Linked DNA regions of Homo sapiens: region 2 is linked to region 1. The links come from fine-mapping of genetic effects on gene expression. A gene starts in region 1. The other region holds a variant in brackets. All regions are shown on one strand. Distances are from middle to middle.

Region 1 (12,021 bases):
CTGTACAAATGTGGTCTTACCATATGTTTTGTCAGGACAATAAATAAAGGTGGAAAAAGCATGAGCTTGGAAATCAGAAAGACCCAAGGTCAAATCCCAGCTCAATTTTTTTTAGCTATGTGAACGCAAGTGAGTTCCTCAATCTCTTGGTGCCTTCTAGTTTCTTCCTTGATAAAATGGAGAAAATTCAAGGATTAAATGAAGGTTTAGCTAAGATTCCTGGTACATAATAAGGACTTATTAACAGTAGTTATTATTATTGCTATAAAAATTTTATTATGTAGGGCTGAGCACGGTGGCTCATGCCTGTAATCCCAGAACTTTGGGAGGCCAAGGTGGGGCAGATCATGTGAGGAAAGGAGTTCAAGACAAGCCTGGCCAACATGCCTGGCCAAAATTAGCCGAGCATGATAGCGGGTGCCTGTAATCCCAGCTACTCGGGAGGCTGAGGTGGGAGAATCACTTGAACCCAGGAGGCGGAGGTTGCAGTGAGCCAAGATCGTGTCATTGCACTCCAGCCTGGGCAACAGAGTGAGACTCCGCCTCAAAAAAAAAAAAAATTTTTTTTATTATGTAGGTCAACTATATTTCAAGTCCTTAAGTTAATGAAAGAGACACATATCAACAGGTGACCACTAATTCAAGGTAATGATATTATTGTACGATACTTAAAACTTAAACCAGATATTTTACCAAAGTGTTCTCATTTGTGAATTGAAGTTAGTTAAATCCTATGATCTCAAGGATAATTCTCTTAACCCTTGGTATACCATTAGTATCCACAGGCGTAATTTTTCATGAATTTCTTGTTTTGAGCTATTTTATTTGTAAGAACTGATATTTCATGATTTCTGTTATTTCTTGGGAGGTCTTTCAAGGAATAAATAGAAAATGTACTTACTTTTAAAAAAATAGAACAAAACTCTTTCTATCCTGTAATTACCATTAATTGGTCCATTGGACTTTTATAAACCTGAAATACATTATGGGATAATAGTGTTCTTATTTTTAATTTTTTTTTTTGCTAATTCATCATCCTAGGAGTTATTTCATCATTATTCATAAATTATTCCCAACTATGTTTTTTAAAAAAACTAAATAAGAAAACAGAAGAATGATGGACTTGCATAAAGCAGTCGTTCTCAACTGGAGATGATTTTGTCTCTAGAAGATATTTGGCAATGTCTGGAGACATTTTCCCTTGTCACAACTGAGGAGCATGCTACTGGCATCTAAAAGGTAGAGGCCAAAGATGGTGCTAAATATCCTATACTGCACAAGACAGGCCCCCACAACAAATCACCTGACTGAAAAGGTTTGTATTGCCAAGGCTAAGAAACCACTTTTAATTTTATGCCTACAATGGCATAAAAGAAGAAAATCAACAGAGAAAGATCTTTCAGAACTATCAGATTAATCAAAACATAAATGCAGAGACAGCAGTATACTAGATTCTAATTTTGATTGTGAAATTGGAAATCTCAAACTCTTGAGTCTTCAGAGGACAAGTCTAGATTAGTTTTCTGAAACTTAAGTATCAATGACTGAACAAAATATTTCTAAGGACAAAAAAGAATTATGATATCCTCACCTAGTCATTCAACATGAAGACCTTATTACACAATCTTTTACAACAAGAATCTGAACCAACTTATTTTGCTAAAAGGACTTGTGATGGTAATGTTAATCTTTTATGATATTTGTGCCAAAAATTTATTTGAACTGATTCATATGTGGACACATGCTGATGGCAGATACGCAAATAAAGGTGGATGAAAGAAAAAATATGTAAAAATTAAAAATGCATCAAATTATTCTAACTAGTGTTTAGAAATCTAAAAATGAAAATATTTTGCAATTATGAAGCAAAGATGACTGACTTCAACAAAATTGCATGCTTTCAAAGTTCACAAAAGTATCAAGTTTTGACTATGCAAATGCAAGAAGCACTAAGAGTAACAATAAGCTAGCACCTATCAGAGAGGTATTTCAAACTATTTACAGCTAACACCAGTCTAATCTTTAAAAAATTAAATATAGGTCAGTCATGGTGACTCACACCTGTAATCCCAGCACTTCATGAGCCCAAGGCAGGAGGATCACTTGAGCCCATGAGTGCAAGACCAGCCTGGGCAATACAGTGAGACACTGTCTCTACAAAGAAAACACTAAAAAAAAAAAAAAAAATTAATTACAGCCGGACGCAGTGGCTCATGCCTGTAATCCTAGCACTTTGGGAGGCCAAGGCAGGCGGATCACGAGGTCAGGAGATCGAGACCAGCCTGGCCAACATGGTGAAACCCTGTCTCTACTAAATATACAAAAATTAACTGAGTGTGGTGGTGCATGCCTGTAATCCCAGCTACTTGGGAGGCTGAGGCAGGAGAATTGCTTGTACCAGGGAGTCAGAGGTTGCAGTGAGCTGAGATTGCACCACTGCACTCCAGCCTGGTGACAGAGTAAGACTCCATCTCAAAAAAAAAAAAAAAAATTTTAATTACAAAACAAGATGAATCATATGTTACTTTGCACAAATAACTACTTAATCCTTAAGTAATGAGCTACCTGGTACATTAAAAATGTGATTAAAGTCATCTAATATTTAAGCACATTTATAGTGCATAAAGATTCTTCCTTACTCTTTAATAAAATGGAAGAAAATCATTTGTGGAAACTAAAATTTCTTTAGTAAGATTTCAGAATACTAGGAAAATACTATTAGTTTCACTGTACACTTTGAAATTAAATCCAAAAGAAATTTGAGGCAAAACCTCAAAACTGCTATAACCTCTGTACTTTACTAGAACTGATTTCAAGGCAAAATGTTTGCCAAGGACTTTCTGAGAGATGAATGAATGACAATGTTCTGAAAAACAGAAGAATCTCTTGAGTTTGATAGTACGATTCATAGCTTAAGGCTTTTAAAAAAATAATAGTGAAATAAAATTAGAAAAATGCTATACCTTAACAGACTGCAAGATACTAGTCCCATGCTCTGTTTCAATTTTGCAATTATCACCCTCAATACTTTGAACTTTTACACAGCCAGACCCTGATGACTTGATATCTAAACCTAGAAGTAAAAAAAGAAAAAAGCAAGTTAGTACTGCAGTTTATAAGCTCCAAAGCATTTTAACCTAGAAACCCAACTCCTCAGTTATGTCCGTAATATTGCTGAATCCTGGAAAGTGCATACTGTAAAGGTAAGGGGTCTTCTACCACAGCAACGGGACCAAAAACAATAGCCTTTCTGCCCGTTTTTAGAAACAGAGCAGTTATTTCTACTGGCCTAAATCACCTAAAGAGAACTAACATAGATGGGAAGTAAAGGAGACTACGATTCTGTTAAGTACTCCTGTGAAAGACTGTAGAAGCCTCTTCCCCAGTATATATGATCATGACTTAGGTTTTCAAATCCTATGTCTAACCTTTCATACTTAAAAAATGAAAATATTACCATGCAACTATATCACAGGTATTTGAAGTAATTTTTTAAAAATGGGAACAACTTTGAAAAAGCTAATATATACTATTAAAACTACAAGATTAGGCCATGAGCAGTGGCTCATGCCTGTAATACCAGCACTTTGGGAGGCCGAGGAAGGAGGATTGCTTGAAGCCCAGGAGTTCAAGACCAGCCTGGACAATGTAGCAAAACTCCATTTCTACAAAAAAACAAAAACATTAGCCGGGCATGGTAGCATGCACCTGTAGTCCCAGCTACTCAGGAGGTGGAGGCGAGAAGATTGCTTAAAACCGTGAAGTCAAGACTGCAGTGGGCCATGATTGTGCACCTGTACTCCAGCCTGCGTGGCAGAGTGAGTGAGATGCAGTCTCAAAAAAAACCAAAACAAACAAACAAAAAACCCCACAAGATTGTGGACAAATGGCAGTGGTATATGAAGCAAGTTTGGAAAATAAGGAATTACAAATGCCATCCTTGGCTGTCTATTTAAGATGTAACTGCAGGCATCTCTGTATACAAATTTTAAAAATTAAAAACGCTGATATTTAATTTGGAATTAACATAAATATTGATGATTTCTCTTAAAGTAGGCAAGACCCGCCCCCCCACTTGATTCCTGAAACCACAAATAGTACCAAATCCTATATATTCTATGTTTTTTCCTGTATACATATCAATGATCAAGTTTAATTTATAAACTAGGCATAGTAAGAGATGAACAATAATAACAAATACAGCAATTATAACAATATACTGTAATAAAAGTTATATTACTGTGATCTGTCAAAATATCTTAATATTTTCCTACAACAGCTGAGGCAGGTAACAAACTGAGACAGCCAAACGGTGGATAAGGGAGGACTACGGCATCTACTATTTGGGCAACTCTAAGCATTATAAAAGATGATCTTAAAAATGCTAAATGCTATTATTATTACTATCATCATCATCATCAATATCTTCCATCAGTCCCAGGAAGAATGACAGTCTGGGGAGCCCTTCCTAGAAAAGTGTGTGTACACAGTGGCTTGCCATTTAGGAAAAGCTAAGAAAGGTATCTTGCAGGCATTATTATTGAAGCTTCCTAGGCAGGCTTACCATGTGTTTTTCTTCAAAGCTTGCTACTCATGGAAAACTTAGGCCAAAAAGAATGGAAATATAACAGTAAGAAGCTGGGCGCCCGTCTAAAACCAAATACTCAAACCAGGTGATACCCGGAACATCCTATTGACAGGGCTGTTTTGGGACAGACCCCCAGGCTGTGAGCAAGATGAAATGTAGATGGACTGCCATACCATTGAATGAATTGTCAAGAAACTTCAACCTTGAAAAATAAGCCAGTTTGCTAATGACAACGGGATAAAGGAGAACACAAGCGGCTCCAGAAATAGAATTTGACCTGGATTATACCAAATCATGTTTCCATTCGATGTATAAAATTTCTATAATTGGGAACCTAATTTTTAAATACTACTCGGACACTCAAGAACAGAACAGAGGAAAAGGTGCATTTCCGAAGGGGCCAACTGTAAATTAGGTTTAGAGAGCCAGGACCAATTAAAAGTGCACGTCGACCACATTTATTAAGTTCACTGTGCGTTCCCTGGGACCCAAACCCGTTTTCACTTCACTTCACTTGCCAAACTTCAGGGGCGCGTTCACCTCCACGGACGCCTGGGGGTGGATAGTATCAGACACAATGGCCATCTCCTCCAGATCCTCGTCGTACTTCACCTGCAGGCCGTCCAGGCCCCGCACGCCGCCCTCCACGCCGCACACCGCGACCAGCACGCGGTCGCCATCCGGGTAGGTGAGGGGGTCCAGGGGCCTCACGGCCAGGTGGCACGGGAGCCGCGCCCGCAGCCGACCAAACGGGCTCACCTGCAGTGTCCACTCCTTCAGAGTTCGGCGCCCCGGGCCAGGCGGAGGGACCTCAGTCTCCGATCCGGGCCAGCGCTCGCTCCCACCTGAGCTGTACGGCCTGGCTTGGCAAGCCCAGCAAGCCCAGCGCCCAGCGCCAGCCCACAGTCGGACCTGACGGAGACAGAGACGGAAGCAGCCAAGCTCCCAACCTGAGCAGGGGGCAAGCATGGCGCGCCTCTCTCGCCAGTCCTCAGAACACTTCAGCCACAGGGAGGGTCACTTGCCACGGCCAATCGACTTGGCCACTGTGCCGCCTCAAGTCAAATAGGAGACGTAAGTCAGGGTTTGCTGAAACAAGAGCGAGCCGGTTGGCTTGACTAGGCGTTCTAAACATCAGCCGCGCAATCCCCAGGGGCAAGTTGGGATTTGAAAGCTCTAAACTCTGACCTGGACCCCTTGCCTAAGTCCACCCCCTTTCGCTAAGGCCGACGGGATAGGTAGTTCTAAGTCGCAGAGCTCTGCCTCTTAGAAACCACATTTCCCAGGAGGCAATGCGCAGGGGAGCACGGGTAAGAGGGTAGGTGTTAGAATCGCTGGAAAGGCGGGCGCCCTTTGTCTCAAGACCATTGGCTATTGGAGGGGCGGTACATGGGAGTCCACTGGCCAATGGGAAGCACGGAAGGGGCAACGCGGGTAAAGCTGCGTGGTCACCTTGGATACCAAGCACGCGACTTCTTGGTTGGAGAGGGTGGAGCTTTGGAGTGAGACCCAGGACGCCAAATCCCAAAGAGAAAAATAGGAGCCTAAATAAGGATCAGGACCAAGGGAAGGGGTAAGAAACTGCGCTTTTTAAGATGACAACTAGGTGCAAACTAGGAGTAACCTCTGTGGATGTCAACATCCAAGCTTCACTAACTTAGTGAGGGCATCTCCAGGGCATGGAGAATGCCTTGGTAAGAAAGTAAAGAGCAAGATTGGTGCTTTTTGAGGGAATTGCCTCTTTGGAAGTGTATTCCCTCCTATATTCCAAATATAGGAATAGAGTACTTGCTCCGTCCTGACCCTAAGTGACCTTACTTTGGGTTTTAATTTGCTCACTTTAAAAATGTAGATAATAATACCTTCCTTGCCTTGCCTCAAAGGGTTTTTGTAAGGATCAAGTAAGAAAATGGATGGGACCGTGGTGCACAGTCTACAAAATTACCGTGTAAAGAACTGTATTTTTATTTCAACGTACTTAACATTGATTCTGAGTTACCAAGAAAATTATGAGAGATCAGAACTTGTTTTGAGAATAGCATTGATCTCTTTGACTACAAATGATCCTCAGTTTTAGAGTGAAAAAAAAAAAAAAGACACAAAAAAGAGAGTCACCATGGTGCGGTGGAAAGAGCAGGGACAAGGGTCAGGTTATTTTCCTGGCTCTGCCACTGCTTCATCTGTGTCACCTAGACCTGTTTCTTTAGTTTTAAAATGAAGAAAGATGGTTCTAAATGACCCTATAAGGGGTGTGTGTGTGTGTGTGTGTGTGTGTGTGTGTGTGTTTACCTTTTATAATTCTATAGGCAGTAAAATAATGGGAACAGAAAGATTTATTTTCTTCTTTTTTCTTTTTTTCTTCTTTCCTGCCTGGTTTCTCTCTCCCCCTCTGTGCCCCTACTTCCTCCTAAAATGTATTCCCTAAATTATTTAGCCAAGACACCTGCAAACACTAACATTTCATAAAATGCAAGTGCCTTAAAAAATAGAAGCCCTTACCCAAGTACAATGACCAGAATTCTTGGGGCTATCGTGATAGATAGACTGGGCTAAAGTTCTCATGGGTACAAGTCTCAGGTTCTCTGCTAGCCACTACCTTTTTAAAATTTTTAAAAATTCAGTGTTCTCTTAAGTTATCATTGCCTCTTTTCTGTCCTTCTAGTCCTTCCTCCCTCCTTATTCTTTTGGTGAAGACTCACTCATTATAGGTGCTAGCTCAGGTTCAGCAAGGGCCCACTGCAATAGTTCTTTTCTTGTCTTTGTGTTTCATTGGTTATAATTATTCAGAATAATCTTCAAACTATTTTTTATGAAAATTGAGAGGTGTAACTTTGAAAAGAAATTTGAAAAAGGCACTGGTTTAAGGAAGTTGAGAAGGTACTCAAATTTTCTGTAGAAACACTAGACATTTTTAGATTAAATATTAATTCTAATAGTTAATTCTGTGTCTATGGTAATTTTTCCTTTTCTGAGACAAACTAAGTTAATGGAATTGGCAACTGAACTATAATTTTCTATGTTGCATGATCATTATTTTACTTTTTCAAATAAAAACCAAATAGAATTGACTGAAAATTTACTTTGCTGATCATACAATGTTGAAAATGGAGAAAATTATTAATATTAAGATTGGCATAAAATATTTAAAGTTATAGACACTTAAAAACAGTATAATGAGTATCAAATCTGTCCACATATCAACAGTGATTAATAAAAGTTGTATCTTCCATCCATATGACATTATAATTGTCAAACCATGTTCACATGCGTCATCTCAATGTATCCTCACTAATTAGGAGGGAAATTATTCTCCTCACACTATAGATGAGGATTCAGATTCAGAAACATTAAGATTAAGCAATTAGAAGGTCTGGCCCTTTTATCACTCTACCAAAACGTCCATTTTCCTGACACCTTTGAAGAAAAAATGAAATTATTCACCTCATAAGTAGAAAATTATATACAACTTTTTTCTCCTTATTTAGAGTTTGTTTCTAAGATATTTTCACATCTTAGTTTTAAAAAGCTATTTCCGTGGTCATGAACATATACTTCTGGTAGGAGTGTTAAGTTAGCACAAAATTTTTAGAGTTCAATTCAGCAATAAGAATGAAAAGCTTTTTCTATGACTCAGAAATTGTGCTCTTGGGGATGTAAGCATAAAATTAGGTATGCTCAAGGAATTACGTTTTATAGGGTTACTTGTAAGAGAAAATAATTGCATCAATTTAAATGCTCCCTGGCCAGGTGCAGTGGCTCATGCCTGTAATTTCAGCACTTTGGGAGGCTGAGACGGGTGGATCACCTGAGGTCAGGAGTTCAGGACCAGCCTGGCCAACACGGTGAAACTCCATCTCTGCTAAAAATTAGCTTGGCGTGGTGATGGATGCCTGTAATCCCAGCTACTCAGGAGGCTGAGACAGGAGAATCATTTAAACACAGGAGGTAGAGGTTGCAGTGAGCCGAGATCACACCACTGCACTCCAGCCTGGATGGCAAGACTGAAACTCTGTCTCAAAAAAAAAATGTTAAATGCTCGCAAATAAGACAGTATTACATAAATTAGTATATAGCTGATATATTATGCAACAATTTAAACATTATATCTTGATATGGGAAATAGTCCATATATAAAGTGAAAAGAATATATACAAAATTGCACGTATAGTATGATCTCAATTGTGTAATAATAATAATAAATTTAACATAAAATTATACTTTACAGAAACAATTCCAGAGGGATATGTACCACTTGATAACAGTTGTTATCTTTAAGCAGTGATATGATGAGTGGTTACTGCAATTTTTTGTGTGTTATCAATAGTGAAAATATATTACATTTATAAGAAAACAATTTTAAAGCATTTCTTAGCATATATTGTTTCCTAAAACTGACTCAAATAATCAGATGGGCAGAAGATTTCTTACCATCTAGACATAAATGTCAACGAATATTTTATTTAATGATTTATGTTCAATAAATGGACAGCAGAGGTCATAAGAGAGTTTTCAGAAGAAAAGGTAACCAAAACAAAGACTTCAGCAATTTAGCTTAAGAGAAAAGCCATAAGAACTTAACTTTCTGAATTATAAACTATTTAAAAAGAGATATATCTTATGACTTCTATTATTCTTATGAAATATTAATAAACTCAACAATCTTAACTAATAACTATCAACATTGAGAAGTATTTAATGACTATATATAGGTACTAATTCTATTTGAAATCTCTATGTGAAACTGCAAATAGACAGTTTTATTTCTTCCTTTCTCTGTATGGCTTTTCTTTCCTGGTGTTATTGCACTGGCTAAGACCACCACTACAATATTGAGTTGGAGTGGCAAAAGCAAAAATCCTTGATTTATTTCCTATTTATGAGGGAAATTTCAACAACAATTAGGAAGTTAGCGGTAGATTTTTAAAGATGCCCTTTAGCAAGTTAAGGAAGTTTACTTTCTAATTTGCTTAGACTTTTTATCATAAGTGAATGTTGCATTTTGTCAAATGCTTTTTCTGTGTCTATGAAGATGATCATATTGTTTTTCTTCTAATTTATTGATATGGTGTATTACAGTGATTGTTTTTCAAGTGTTTCATTCCCTCAATAAGCTACATTTCATCATGTTATTGTCAGGGAGTTTTGCGTTGCCAATTTCCTGGCCAGAAACCTCTGTGGCCACAGCACCTTTGCCCGAATTCTTGTCCTGCATCCAGGAAGAATGAGGTACGCAGACAAGTGAAGGGTGAACGAGACGAAGATGAGCTTTATTAAGTGTTACAAGAGCTCAGAGGAGACCCACAGTGGGTAGCTCCTCTCTGTAGGAAGATCATCTGTCCAGCATTCAGTTCTCATTAGAGAGGTGGCCCTGGAGAGGGTAGCTCCTCTCTACTACTGGTTGTCCTGATGTCTGCAGCTCTCAGTGGAGAGGAGGCCCTGGAGAGGGTGCCTCCTGTCTGCTGGCAGGTTGTCTCTGAAGCTCTCGGCAGAGACGGTAGCTCCTTTCTGCAGCTGGTCCTTGTGTAGTCTGTCTACCCTCTTCGTCCTTTGGCCATCCTCTGCCCTGCTCTGGCTGAGTCCAGGGCTTTTATGGACCTCAGAGGGGAGGAAGTTCATGCTGATTGGTCCATGGGCAGCCATGGGCTGCTGGAAGAGGCCCCATGAGTCCCCAAACTGGTATGCAGTACTGGCAGTTGGCCCCCAGCCTTCAGGCCCTTCCTGGACTGAAGGTAGAGCCTTACTGGGGACCTGCCCCCTTCCACCCAAGAATCTGTCTGCCTCCCGCTGCCATTCATGGCCCCAGGGCTCAACCCCAACCCCACTCCAAGATCTGAGCCAGCTCCAGGAGAGGAGAGAGGTCAGGAGAGGAGAGAGGTCAGGCAGCGGGAGCAGACACCCCAAGCCTGCAGGGATAGGGGGGCCTTCCGGGGCACCAGAGGGTACAGGCTGCAGAGATGCCTGGGTCCCGTGGGTGAGAGGGCAGTGGCAGCTGCACCCAGGGAGCTCCCGCAGGCCAACTCAGCAGGGGCAGGATTCCCCAGCTCCTGCCTGCTCCATGTTGTGGGAGGCCCAGGTCTGCAGCTGCTGGTCAGGCGGCTGCAGCTGCACCCAAGAGGGCAGATCCTGCCTGTTCCCAGCCCCACTTCAAGAGCGCAGGGAGGCTCGGATCTACAGCTGCAGTTTGGGCGGCTGTAGCACCGTCCAGGAGGGTGGGGCTCCTGACTGCCCCATGGAGTGGGAGGCCTGGGTCTGCAGTCCCAGCCTTTCCTCCCTGCTGCAGCCAGCGTGATGGCACCAGCCACTGCCATCATTATCTTTTCTATAAATTGCTAGATTCAACTTGCTAAATTTGTGAGGATTTTTACATTTTATTTTCATGAAGGATATTGGTCCAAAGTATTCTTTCATGTCTTTTTCTGGTTTTGATATTAGGGTAAAATTAGAAGGGCAAATGTTGCCTCTTTTATTTTATGGAAGATTGTTAGAAAATTGTTAATATGGTTTAGTTTTATTTGTCCTGCTCAGAAGTCAATATGCTTTCTTTGTCTAAAGTCTCCAATTTATAAACCTTCAGCATGTCCTTGCTCTTTCTATTCTTTACTTTTGGAGCTCTCATTTAGACATGTATTTTAATTTCTCATTCTGTCATCCATATCTCTTAACTGTGTTTATATGATTTATGCCTCTTCATCTTTTTGTATTTCATTCTGGATGATTTCCTCAAATCTATGTTCTAATTCATTAGAACATCTTTGCTAATGAATCTTTGCTAATCCAATCTTTGCTAATCCATTGTTTAATATCTGCATTGAATTTTTCATCCCAATGACTATATTATCATTGCTAGAATATTTATTTGGTTCTTTAAAAAATCTGTTTTCTCTTATTTTAAACTGCCCCGTTTATTTTACTGTGGTTTCTTTACCTTCTCTTGCCTTTTTAATTATTTTAAACATACTGATGCAAAATTATTCTAGTCTGTTCTGTTATGAGGTTGCTGTTTCTCTTTTGCTACATAAACAAACTCTGTCTCATGGTGGTTTATTTCTTGTCATGGCGTATAAATTTTTATTTATAGCTCATCTTCAGCGGGAGTTCTCTTTTCTGAAAATCCTTTACATTCTAGATTACAATAAAATTTTTCTTGTTCCCTGTAGAACAATTTTGGATTTGCTTCAGTCAGAACTCGACCAATTTCCATGGTCATGGGCCAGGTTTTCGATTTTTATTTTCTTTTATTTTTGCTTCATTTCCTTCTGTGCAAAGTAATTCATTCATACAAAAGAATAAAGTATGAATAAAGTCTAAAGAATAATAGTAAAAAGAACATCTTTATGCCTAACACCCAGTTTAAGAAATAAGACATACCAATAAGTTTCAGTTTCCTTGTTTCTTTTTTCCTCCTTTATCTTCTGGCTTTCACTTAAAAGCAG
Region 2 (12,021 bases), 25 kb before region 1:
AGAGTTCGAGACCAGCCTGGACAACATGGTGAAACCCTGTTTCTACCTCCCCCAGCTCAAAAAAAAAAAAAAAAAAAAAAAAAAAAAGCTGGGTGTGGTGGTGCACAACTGTAGTCTCATCTACCTGGAAGGCTGACCTCCCAAGCTTAGGCGATCCTGATGAGGCTGCACTGAGCCATGATCTTGCTGCTGCACTCCAGCCTGGGTGACAGAGTGATACCCTGTCTCAAAAACAAAAACAAAAAACTTAATTGCTTTCCAGGGTTCAAATGTAAACTACAGACAGGAGATTCCCATAACAACATATGAGGGCTTTAGGAAAAAACAAAACAAAAACAACCCTGGAAGATTTCAGGATAAATAGAAGACACGTTTTTCTACCAAACATACTTTCAAAAGTAGAAAATCATGGATTTAAAAACTTTTTTGTAGGGCTTGATATGTCTAAATGTATCAAGTTTCAAGTGTGCTAACTTTATGAACACTTGTCTCTGTCCTTAAATGCATAACATGATCTTAAATTTTTCAGATCTTTAGAAATGTTAAGCAATGCAAAGATTTCTACCCCATCTCCCTCCATATCTTTAAAAGCCAAAAACCACCTACCAAAACTCCATTACTGTTTGTGAATGAAGAATTTTCATGACTTGAAAACCTTCCTAATGTCCCATCGTTAACACTAACTTTTTTAGAAAGGAGGGCTCTTGTTGTGTTCTTTAACCTCTTTTCACATCATAAACTTCTTCATGGTTGACATCAGTACTATCCTCTTAAAAATTCAAATGTGAACTAACAGCATCATTTATTGAAGGCATATTATGTTAAAATTAGTGATTTTCCCAAGGACAAAATGTTAAGTAGAAAAGTCAGTACTCAGATTCAGGTGTGACTCCCAGGCCCAAGCATAGCCTGGAATGAATTAAGAAGGTCACCATATTAATTTTCATAAGGTGAAAGAAAACAAGCATTATATATTTTTCCACATCAGAAAATGTTGAAGACCTAAGAGACTCCAGTGGCTGGCTCTGAACCCTACAGCAAGACAGTGGCAGAGTTGGAATGGATTCCAGATGTCTTTGCGAACGATTAAGAAAGAGTTACTGAATAACTTTCCATTACTCTTAAAAAGTTACTCTTACCAAGTGTATTGAGAATTCGGAGATCTGAAGTAAGACAGAAATCTTTGTTTTCAGTTGTCTTTAAGCTTTTGCCAGTAACATGGTCCCAGTAGAAGAAAACATAAAACTGTAATCCTAATCAAATTTTGCAACATCAAATACTATTTCAATAGTTTCAAATACTATTCCAATATTGTTCCAGCAATATTCCAAATAATACTAAGAAATATTTTAAATGAATAAAGACTAACAATCTTCAAAAGTTTTACAGTTTTCTGTTTGTTTTATTTTGCCTACTGTGCAAAACATTAAATTATTTGTATGTAACAGCTGCTTATTCAAAACTTTGTTCTTACTCTGTTACTAGTTATATTAACAATATATCCCTCTTCTCTTTGGATCTTTGTAATAATGGAGTACAGTTATATGACTTACATGCCATTTATAATTTTCCCTGAAGAGTATTACCTGAAGCTCTTAGATTTAGTGAGGACATAAGTTTATCCTATTTTAAAGGGAGAAAATATGATATTGAGAAGTCACACCGGTGTATCAGCAATAACTGAGGTTTCAGACCTCTGTGTTTTGCAGTTTTGACACTGACAAATTCTAGAGATGGATTAAAAAAAACTATTACATCAATATGGTAAAGCAACTACTAATAGCAGGAACAATCAGTCTCTGTGAGGAAATATTTTCCTTGTTAAACATCTGGCCAACATGCAAGAGCTGCTAGACTATTTAAAAAAATTTTTTTATACAGAGCTACAGTTCTTAACTTTCTGCAGCCAAGCCACTTCAGCCCCTATGGCCAACCTACTTCACCCAAGCCACTTGTCAACACATATGTGTACATCCATGTGTGCAGAAGAACAGACAAATTCATATTTAGCTTTCAGATGAAAAGTATACCATTTTAAATGAAAGAGTTGGACTCAGAATAAGTTGTGTCAGAAGTTAAATGATAGAGACATATCATAAGTCTTGATACTTCAAGAGACTAAGTAATCACTTTAGAGGACCTTTCTGTGTGATACCTTTATTTAAGGATCACACTTTGAAAACTGTTACTCTACACTGATTGCCTGAGAAGTTCCTTTTACAGGCTGGCAGAGAAGCTTCCAAAAGAGTGTATGGCAGCGTTTTTCCTTCAAAGATTATTCTATTTCAGAATAGAATAAACTGAAAAATCCACAGAGTAACATTTAAAAATTCCATAATAACAGTCAAAATATTACATTTTTGTTTGTACTACAAAGGGAAAGATAGTCTGCATGGCCATCTATCCCAAAAGTTGTAAAGATCACTGGTCTAGAAAGCTAGCAGACCAGTGCCTTTAAATTAGGTTCTATCAGAAGATATTTTCTTGAAATCACTATGTCAGTATAGATAATTTGACCATCTGTTTCCTGAGTGTTACATAAACCTTCCTTACATCATATGTCAAAATAAAACATTCCAGTTCACTAACCTTTATGGGATTTCAATTCCACTTTCCCCAGTTGGCTGACATAAACATCTATGGCACCCTGATTAGTTGAGGCTTTTAGACATCCAGAAGACGAATCTAGGAAGAAGAAAAAACCATAAGTAAAATAATTCTTACTTGATAAATGGAATTACAAACTTAAAATAAAAGGCTCTGCTTTAGCATTAGGATAAGGGGCTAAGAATCTTGCAAGGTTTAGTATTTTCCTCATAACAATGCCATTGTTTGCACTTGAACGTAAACAGTATCAGAAACCTAGAAATCTATTAAACAACTAATTTAAAAATCTTTATCTATATTAACCTGAATAACTTATCTCTAAACATTTACTCTAAAACTTAATGAGTCGGAAGGAGAGTCTGCAAGTAATGGTTCCTTTGACCACTAAGCATCATTGATATATTTAGTTTTTTATCATGTTGATACATTTAGTAAACTTTCAATAATTACCAAAGAATTCTACCTCATGTATAGTCACATACAAGCAGTAGCAAGGCTGACAAAAATCAAAACCTCTCATAATTTCTCCTTGTAGCAAATTTGCTGATACTAAGAAGTGCTCCTAATAGTAAAAGATTACTCTACATAAAGTTGTCGCATTTCTTTTTTTCTTTTTTTTTTTTTTTTTAGAGACAGGGTCTTGCTATGCTGTCCAGGCTGGTCTCTGACTCCTGGGACCAAGCCATACTCCTGGGATTACAGGCACAAACCACTGTTCCTGGCTTGCTGCATTTCTTTAAGGGGCAGAAGGGCAGGGTGGAATAATTTGAAGAATAGCTTGTTTATATCTAATAGTTCTTTTCAAGTTTCTGGAATTGAACAGGTATCTTTAAGTGAGGATAAGAAAATAATAATTAAGGTAACCCTGATTTGTCATTCAAATTTCCCTATGTGGTCAATGACCCCACTTTTGAATCAACCAGTATCTCAAGTTCAAGGGAAAACAGTCAAAATAAGGAAGTAAGAAAATGAACTTGAAGAGTTAGTGCTAAGTGGTTTTTCCTTCTTCTCTTTCTCCCATGGCAATTGAATCTTTAATTTAATATTCTATCTGACTGCCTGGAGAAAGCCAAAGCATATTCTTTTTAGAGAGGCCTCTTAAAAAGCATATTTTATCAGGAGGTTTTATTACTTCAAAGTGGAAACAAAGTAGGGAGTGTGGTGAAAACTATGCCAAAAATTATACTGTTTACAAAACAGAGAGAGAAAACATTTGTGTGTGTGTGTGTGTATAGGAGCCAACATTTTTCTTTTAAAAAAATGTTAACTGACTTCAAACAAAGAGAGTAAATTTGGAATAAACTGTTTAAAATGCGGCTCCAAGATCATTTATAATAATTTATTTCCAATCTATACTGGAAAATGCCCTTTATCAGACTCAATTTATTTAGTTTTCAAGTGTCAAAAGTTAACACTGACGTTGGGAAATGAAACCACTAGAGATAAATGACACAGAATAGCTGGACAAAATGAACATTTCACTGCTTACGAACCAACAGAAACTCCTTTTTAAACCTCTTACCGCATCCTAAAAGAAGCCAAGTAAAAATTACATTATGCTAAAAAAAAGAAAAGTGTAATACACAAGGTGTGTATTATTCCAGTTTGAACAAAGTAAAATAGCTGAAACATTAGTGTGATTTCTCGCTTTCTCAAGGAGGGAAAAAAAACACACACAATTTTTATGTGGCTCATAAATAATACTTTCATTTATTTTTCCCTCCAAATGAGAAATAAATGACAGCTAAATAATTATATCCTAGGCCACAAAGTAATTATATCCTCATGTTATCTGTATTGATCTCTAATGATGGCTCATCCCTTGGAGGATGTTAAAAAATAAAAAAATGAAAACGCAAGATGTTTTCAAGAAAGAAGGCAAAGGTGATATTTTAAAACTATGCAGCAAAACAAGCCCTCCTATTTTTTTTGTTTAACACAAATTATCAGAACTAAAATTAATTATCAAGAGTAAAATTAAGGCTTCATCCACAGAATTTCATTCTTTTGGAGTTTACATAATGGAGAAATTCTATGGATCTGGGAGAAAGTCCTGTAGATCTAATGTATAGCACAGTGACTGTAATTAACAATACTGTACTGTAAACTTGATATTTGCTAAGAGAGTAAATCTTAAACATTTTCATCATACACATAAAATGGTAATGAGGTGAAGTGACAGATATGTTAACTAAACGGACTGTGGAAAT[T/C]ATTTCACAGTATATATGTATATCAAATCATTATATTGCATGTATACCTTAAATATATACGGTTTTGTCAATTATGTCTCAATAAAGTCAGCAAAAGCAAAAAAAAAAAACAAAAACAAAACACACCACAAAAGATACCAAAATAAATCTACATTGTAATGTGATTAGCTCAGTGCTTGGCACATGGGCACTGAGTAAATGATAGATATTTTAAAGAAAGGGCCAGGTGTGGTGGCTTATGCCTGTAATTCCAGCACTTTAGGAGGCTGAGGCAGGAGAACTGCTTGAAGCCAGGCATTTGAGACCAGTATGGGTAACAAAGTGAGACCTTGTCTCTATTTTTTAAAATAATAAACAAGTAAATAATGTTAAAAGAAAAATCAGTCAGTATAGTTGGTCATATTAATAAAAGAAAAATGATCATTTCAATAAATTCAGGAAATGTGTTTGACAAAATTCAACACTCATTCACGAACAAAGAAAGTAAAAAAAGAGAAACTTTTAAGCAAACAAGGAATAAAAGATTACTCTCCCAATCTGATAAAAGGCATCTGTTAAAAATCTATAGCTAACATCACACTTAATGCATTCCCCCTAATATTGGGGACAAGGATAGGGATCAAGTGCAAGGAATCACACTCTCATCACTACATTCAACATTATACTGAAGTTCATAGCTAGTCTGATAAGGCAAGAAAAAGAAAAGTAATAAAGATAGGAGGGAAAGAGGTAAAACTCTATTTGCAGTTGAAAATGTCTGCTCAGCTAGAAAAGGATTCTAGATTTGAGAAAACCACTATTAGAATAAATTTAGCAAGGTCACAAGATACAAGGTCCATTTATAAAAATCATTTGTATTTACATATATCAGCAGTAGACAATTAGAAGCAAAGTCTTAAAAACTGTCTCATTTGTAACAGTGTTAAAAACACAAATGAATTTAACAAAAAAATGTGCCAGATCTCTACACTGAAACTTACAAAGCAATGCTGAGAAAAATTAAAGAAGACCTAAATAAATGGAGAGAGCTACCTACCATGTTCATTAATTGGAAGATACAATGTGATTCAGTGCAATCCCAAACATAATCAAAACTGTATTTTTTGGTAGAAACTGACTGGAAAATCAAAGGACCTATTATATCCAAAGTAATCCTTAAAAGGAACAAATTTGGAAGACTTCAACTACCTGATTTACAGACTTACCAAAGATACAGTAATCATGATATTGTGGCACCGGCATAAGGCTCACCAAATAAATCAATGAATTAGGAACAAGAGATCAGACATTGAGCCACACTTATATAGTGATTTGATTTTAGACAAGGATGCTAAAGTAATCCATCAGAGAAAGGAAGTTTTTTCAACAAATGATGATATAAAAAAATTTTAAAACTGACAATAATAAATGTTGATGAGGATGTGGAGCAACTCAAATTCTCATACATTGTTGATGAGAGTATAAAGTGGAACTTTGGGAAAAGGTCTGGTAGTTTATCATAAAGTTAAACATAGAACCTACCTAGTCAACTCAGCAATGCCATACCTACGTATTTACCCAAGAGGAAAAATATATATACATCCATAAAATGACTTACATTAATATATTCATAGCAGCTTTATTTACAGTTGCCAAAAAATTAGAAATGGCCCAGGTGTCCATCAACAGTAGAATGAACAAATTAAGCCTTCTAATAGCCTGCTTTCACTTCTGAACCCTTCTGGTACATTATGAAATAACAGCTAGGTTGTTCTTTTAAAATATAAATTATATATCACTTCCCTAACATCCTGTTGTAGTTGGAATAAAGTCTGAACTCTTACCCTGTCTACAAGGTCCTAAGATCTAGCCTTACTTACCTCATATCCTACCACTTTCCTCATAAGCCAGCCTTCTTTCCCTTGAAAATAGTAAACTTCCATTTTCAAGGCCTGCACTTGCTGTTCCTCTATCTAGGGAGCCTGTATCCAGAATTTTATATAACTCTTTCTCATTTTTCTGGCTTTGGTTTAAATGTACCCTCTCCAGACCACCCCCAATTGCCTAACTGAAGTAGCTTTCTTTTTCCCCAATCTCTATTCAGTTACCCTTTCTTATTTCTTCATTGTACTTACCACAAACTAAAATTACCTTTTGTTATTTATGTGCTTGTTGTCTTTCTTCCCAGGGCTCAGAGAAGGTGAGGTCTCTGAGCACAGAAACTATGTCCTGTTGACCAATATGTTCCCTAGTACCTAAAAGAATTCTTAATACATGGCAGGTACTCAATAAATACATGTTGACTAACTAGTTATTGGTATTCACAAGGTTGTCTTCAAATGTTAACACATTTGGAGCCCAATAAACAGTGACATTATTTATATCTTTCTTTCAAGGACTTAATTTAGATATTTGAAGAATTCAAGAAATTTGTAAGATCTTTTTTTCTTTCTTTTCTTTTTTTTTTCTTCAGAGAAGTTTAGCAAGAAATATAAGACATTTCTTAATACCAGCTCAGGCGATTTTCTTCGAGTGGACATAATTAGTACATTGGTTCTGCCTATATTTGACTTGTGATCCTGTCAAGTTCATCAGTTAAACTGTAGAATTCATTTATTCTAATAAAGTCATCACAAATATACCCATTTTTAAAAGTGGACAAAATACACGAACTAGTAGCTTAGCACATACCTACTGTGATGTTACCCATCTTGCTTTGTAATGTTATATTACCTGCCAAAAAGAAAAAGATACTTTTATGTACTAGAGACAATCTAGAAAGGAACTGTGATACATAGCAATGCTAAAACATGGATGAATATCTACAATGTTATTTTTGTTGGCAATTTTTCCCAATATCACAAGTCCAGTCAAAGATTGAGCTGTAGTTCTGAAATAACTGGCTTAGGTATCTCTGCAAACCTTCTTTCTCTACTACCAAACCTTAAGCTTTTATAGCATAACTACAAATCACCATAACTGCTGGCACAGAGGAAAAACAATACTTCTAAAACCTGTAAGTGAAAAAAATTACTGAAATGTAGTCACTGTACATTTTCAACCTAAATATCAATGTATTTATCAGACCACACAAAGCGAAGTTTTCAACCAAGTAACACTAAAATATGGTATGGAAAAAAAGAATTACTTTTATTTTTCAGGCCACTTGCCATGTCTATTAAATTAAAAGTAGTTTCTGGGCCAAGAATTAAAGTGGTTTGAGATAGGAATAATGAATACATGGAGGTATGACTAACAAAACAGAACAAAGAAGCTTCAAAGATTTCCGTCTTAGTGAAAATATGTTTTCCATGATAAGGATGGAATATTGCAACCATTCTTCCCAGCCCCTTTCCCCTAACACCAAAAGTAGTAGGATTATTCTTCATATGTGTGTTTGTATGTGTAAGTATTCCTAGAATCAGGAACTCATATTTATTCTACTGAAAATATAAGCAATAATGTTATCTCTTCTAAAATAATTCCAAAACTACACTAAAAAGTAAAGGAATAACTTTGGCCTCAGAATTAATCTTCAGTAAACTCATTTTATCTCATTTCATATACCTTATGAATACTGACTTGTATCAGTATCTGGGAAAAACCAAAAAAAGGCACTGGATTCATTTACTCAATAGCCAGATGCGCCTAATTGCAAAAATCCATCTGAAGGTCTAATATACCATCATATTTCTTGTGAGTATATGAACAAGGAGTATATTTGTGTATGAATAAAAACTTGGTTTGTGTACTGAAGCTTATAAGATTACTAATTTTTTTTCATATTTTAGATTCAGGGGATACATGTGCAGGTTTGTTACCTGGGTATATTGTGTGATGTTGAAGTCTGGGGTACAAATGATCCCATCACCCAGGTACTAGGCATAGTACCCAATAGTTTTTCAACCCTTGCCCCGTCCCTCCATCCCCCATCTAGTAGACTCCAGTTTCTACTGTTGCCATCTTTATGTCCATAATTATCCAATGTTTACCCCCCACTTATAGGTAAGACCATGTGGTATTTGGTTTTCTATTCCTGTGTTAATTCGCTTAGGATAGTGGCTTCCAACTGCATCCATGCTGCTGCAAAGGATATAATTTCATTCTTCTTTATGGCCGCATAGTATTCCATGGTGTATATGTACCACATTCTCTTTATCCAGTCCACCACTGATGGGCACATAGGTTGATTCCATGTCTTTGCTATTGTGAATAGAGCTGCAGTGAATATGTTGAGTGCATGTGTCTTTTTGGAAGAATGATTTATTTTCTTTTGTGTATATATCCAGTAATGGAATTGCTGGGTTGAATGGTGGTTCTGTTTTAAGTTCTTTGAGAAATCTTCAAACTGCTTTCCACAGTGGCTGAACTAATTTACATTCCCACCAACAGTGTATGAGTGTTCCCCTTTCTCCACAGCCTCGCCAGCGTCTGTTGTTTTTTTACTTATTTTTAATAATAGCCATTCTGACTGGTGTGAGATGATATCTCATTGTGGTTTTGATTTGCATTTCTCTGATGACTAGTGATTTGGAACAGTTTTTCATGTTTGTTGGTTTCTTGTACGTCTTCTCTTGAGAAATGAGCAAAATGTCCTGTCTTTTGCTCATTTTTAATAGGGTTATTAGTTTTTTGCTTATTGATTTGTTTAACTTCCTTGAAGATTCAAAGGAACAAAGGATATTAAACCTTTGTCAGATACAGAGTTTGCAAATATTTTCTCCCATTCTGTAGGTTGTCTATTTACTCTGTTCATAATTTCTTTTGCAGTGCAGAAGCTCTTTCATTTAATTAGATCCCAATGAGGCAAGTCTAGGAGGACAGGAATCACATCTTTCTTATTTAGCTTCATACCTGGGAACTTTGCACAGTGCATAGTACATAGTAAACACAATTATTTTGTGAACAAATAAAAAGTTTGGAAAAGTAGGTAAAGAGCAACCTGTGGTAGAACCACAGAGTGCTAAGTCTACTGACTATCCTACACCAAAAAAGTTAGTGAAGAATTTCAAGATGAATAAAAATACAAGAAAACCATGCTTTAAGGAGATTCACCTAGTGTGAGACAGTGGGTGTTTCCATACTCAGCATTCTCTTTACTGCTTGTTGTGGTTTGAACGTTCCCACAAAAGTTCATGTGTTGGAAACTTAGTCCCCAGTGCAGCAATACTATGAGGTGGGACCTTTGGGAGGTAATTGGGTCATGAGGGCTCTACCCTCATGAATGGATTAACCCATTCATGAATCAATGGATTAATGGGTCATAGAGGGAGTGGGTTAGCTATTACAAGAGTGAGTCTGTTATAAGAGCCAGTGTGGGTGTCTCTCATGCAGCCTCTCTCCATGTGAGGCCTGTGCCACTTCATGACTCTGCAGAGCCCCTATCCGCAAGAAGGCTCTCACCAGATGCGGCTCCTAGACCTCAGACTTCTCAGCCTCCAGAACTGTAATATATAAGCTTTATAAATCACTCAGTCTCAGGTATTCTGTTATAGCAACAGAAAACAGACTAAGACACTGCTCTACCTCCTGAACAATAAAAGATAGACAGGTCCCTGATATTCGTAACTTTATTAATAAAGAACTATGATAAAGTTTTACAGTCATTTAGCTAGTGAATCCAGTCACCCACTCATCAAGGCAATGGAGCTTTATAGTTTTACACTAGTCTTTAATAATGCAGTAAAAATTTACAATTTTTTTTAAAATAAAAATATGGTCTTTCTCAAAAAGCCAATCATTAGTGCTTGTCATGAAAGTGAGGAGGTCTTGAGAAAACAATGATTCTTTGAACCAGAAAAATAGAAGTTTTAGATCTATACAAAATGAGGATTAGTTAATTATAGTGGGACCTATAGAGTCTCAGATAACATTCTTCTTGAATGTTTGAGTTCTACTGTATACTAAAAGCATAATGGAGCAACAACAACAAAAACCCATGGAATTAAGGAATCATTTCAAATACTGTCTAGTTGTAAGTAACACTTCAAAATATTTTTGTCAACTCTAAATAAAACAGTAAACAAAAACTTATTTTCAACTCATATCAAAATATTTAGAAAATCTCTACCTTAAACAGAAATATTCTAAAGTCATTAGAAAACACAAAATGGATTTCTTCCTTCAAATGCATAGTGGAATAAAGTAGTATATTTAAAAGTATACCAAGCAACAAAATGGGCATTATTAGCAAAATTTTCTATATTTTGATTCCACCTACTTCATCTCCAAACACTGAAAATAATAAATTAATTATTTGAGAGGAGTAAATCTTAGTAAAAGCTTCTTTCCAATAAAGCAGACACCAGATGGTCTGTAATAACTATGTGTGCTTACCCTACTCTCAAGTTATATAAGTTTTCCACAAATCCCAGTATTTGAGAAAATAGATAGTTTTTCTTAGCTTGTAACCTTTCATTCTAGCATGGTCAGAGGAAAAAAAAATGTAATCAATTTAAAGATAAACATTGGTTTATTTTTCTTCACCAAAAGAAATGTGATTATGGTTCAAGCACATAGAACTCTTAAAATCCAAACAGAGTAATCAAGTATCCTTAAAGATTAAGTCATTTTGTGGTTTTTGGTGGGTAGGGGTGGGGAGGTGGAAAGGGAGACACTTGTATTTGCAAGCCACAGTGCTAAATGCTAAGAATATAGAGATGAATAAAACATAATCTTTGTTCTTGAGGAATTTATAATTAGGCAAGGATTTATAGAAAACCAGAGATGAGGCAAGATGCTTTAGCTGAGTACTGAAAGATTAAAAAAGTCAACAAGATTTTTAAAAAGCTAGGAAAAGCATTTCAGGCAGAATATAAACAGTATGATCAGTATGATCAAAGGCTCTGATCAAGAACTCAGAGGTATAAAACAGGTAAAAATGTATATAGGAAAAAAGACTAATTCTGGAAGACAAAGCATACAGTCAGAAGAGGGAAGAGGGAAGTTGGGCACGTCACTAAGGCAGTAGAAAACGGTCCGAATAAGAGAATGACATGTTCAATGTGCATTACTAATAAACTACTTTAGCTGCAGTGAGGAGAAATGGATCTGAAGAAGGCAAGGCTGGAGGCAAAGTTATTGCTAGTATCAAGGCAAGAGGTCAAGAGGGTCTAAAACAGAAGTGTAGAAATTAGCAGGAAAAAGGTGAGATAGATTGAAAAAATATTTAGGAGATAAAACCTGCCTAAACTTGGTAGTTGATTAGATGCAGGAGATGAGAGAG

What was found.
Region 2: its variant is fine-mapped to the expression of FAM185A in neutrophils (BLUEPRINT, PIP 0.95).

Annotation. Positions count from the first base shown.
Region 1 is chr7:102,742,744-102,754,764 of GRCh38, reverse strand. FAM185A (family with sequence similarity 185 member A) reads right to left here and starts at 5,766. Exons shown (of 8, transcript NM_001145268.2): 1 at 5,107-5,766; 2 at 2,964-3,073. The coding sequence starts at 5,557. It also overlaps the pseudogene RASA4DP. RefSeq lists silencers at 5,777-5,946, 5,987-6,076 and an enhancer at 5,749-6,043.
Region 2 is chr7:102,767,917-102,779,937 of GRCh38, reverse strand. FAM185A (family with sequence similarity 185 member A) reads right to left here. Exons shown (of 8, transcript NM_001145268.2): 5 at 7,488-7,529; 6 at 2,590-2,685. Among named protein-coding and RNA genes, the nearest start is that of FAM185A, 25 kb to the right of the region's middle. The variant T/C (reference allele first, on the strand shown) is at 4,818.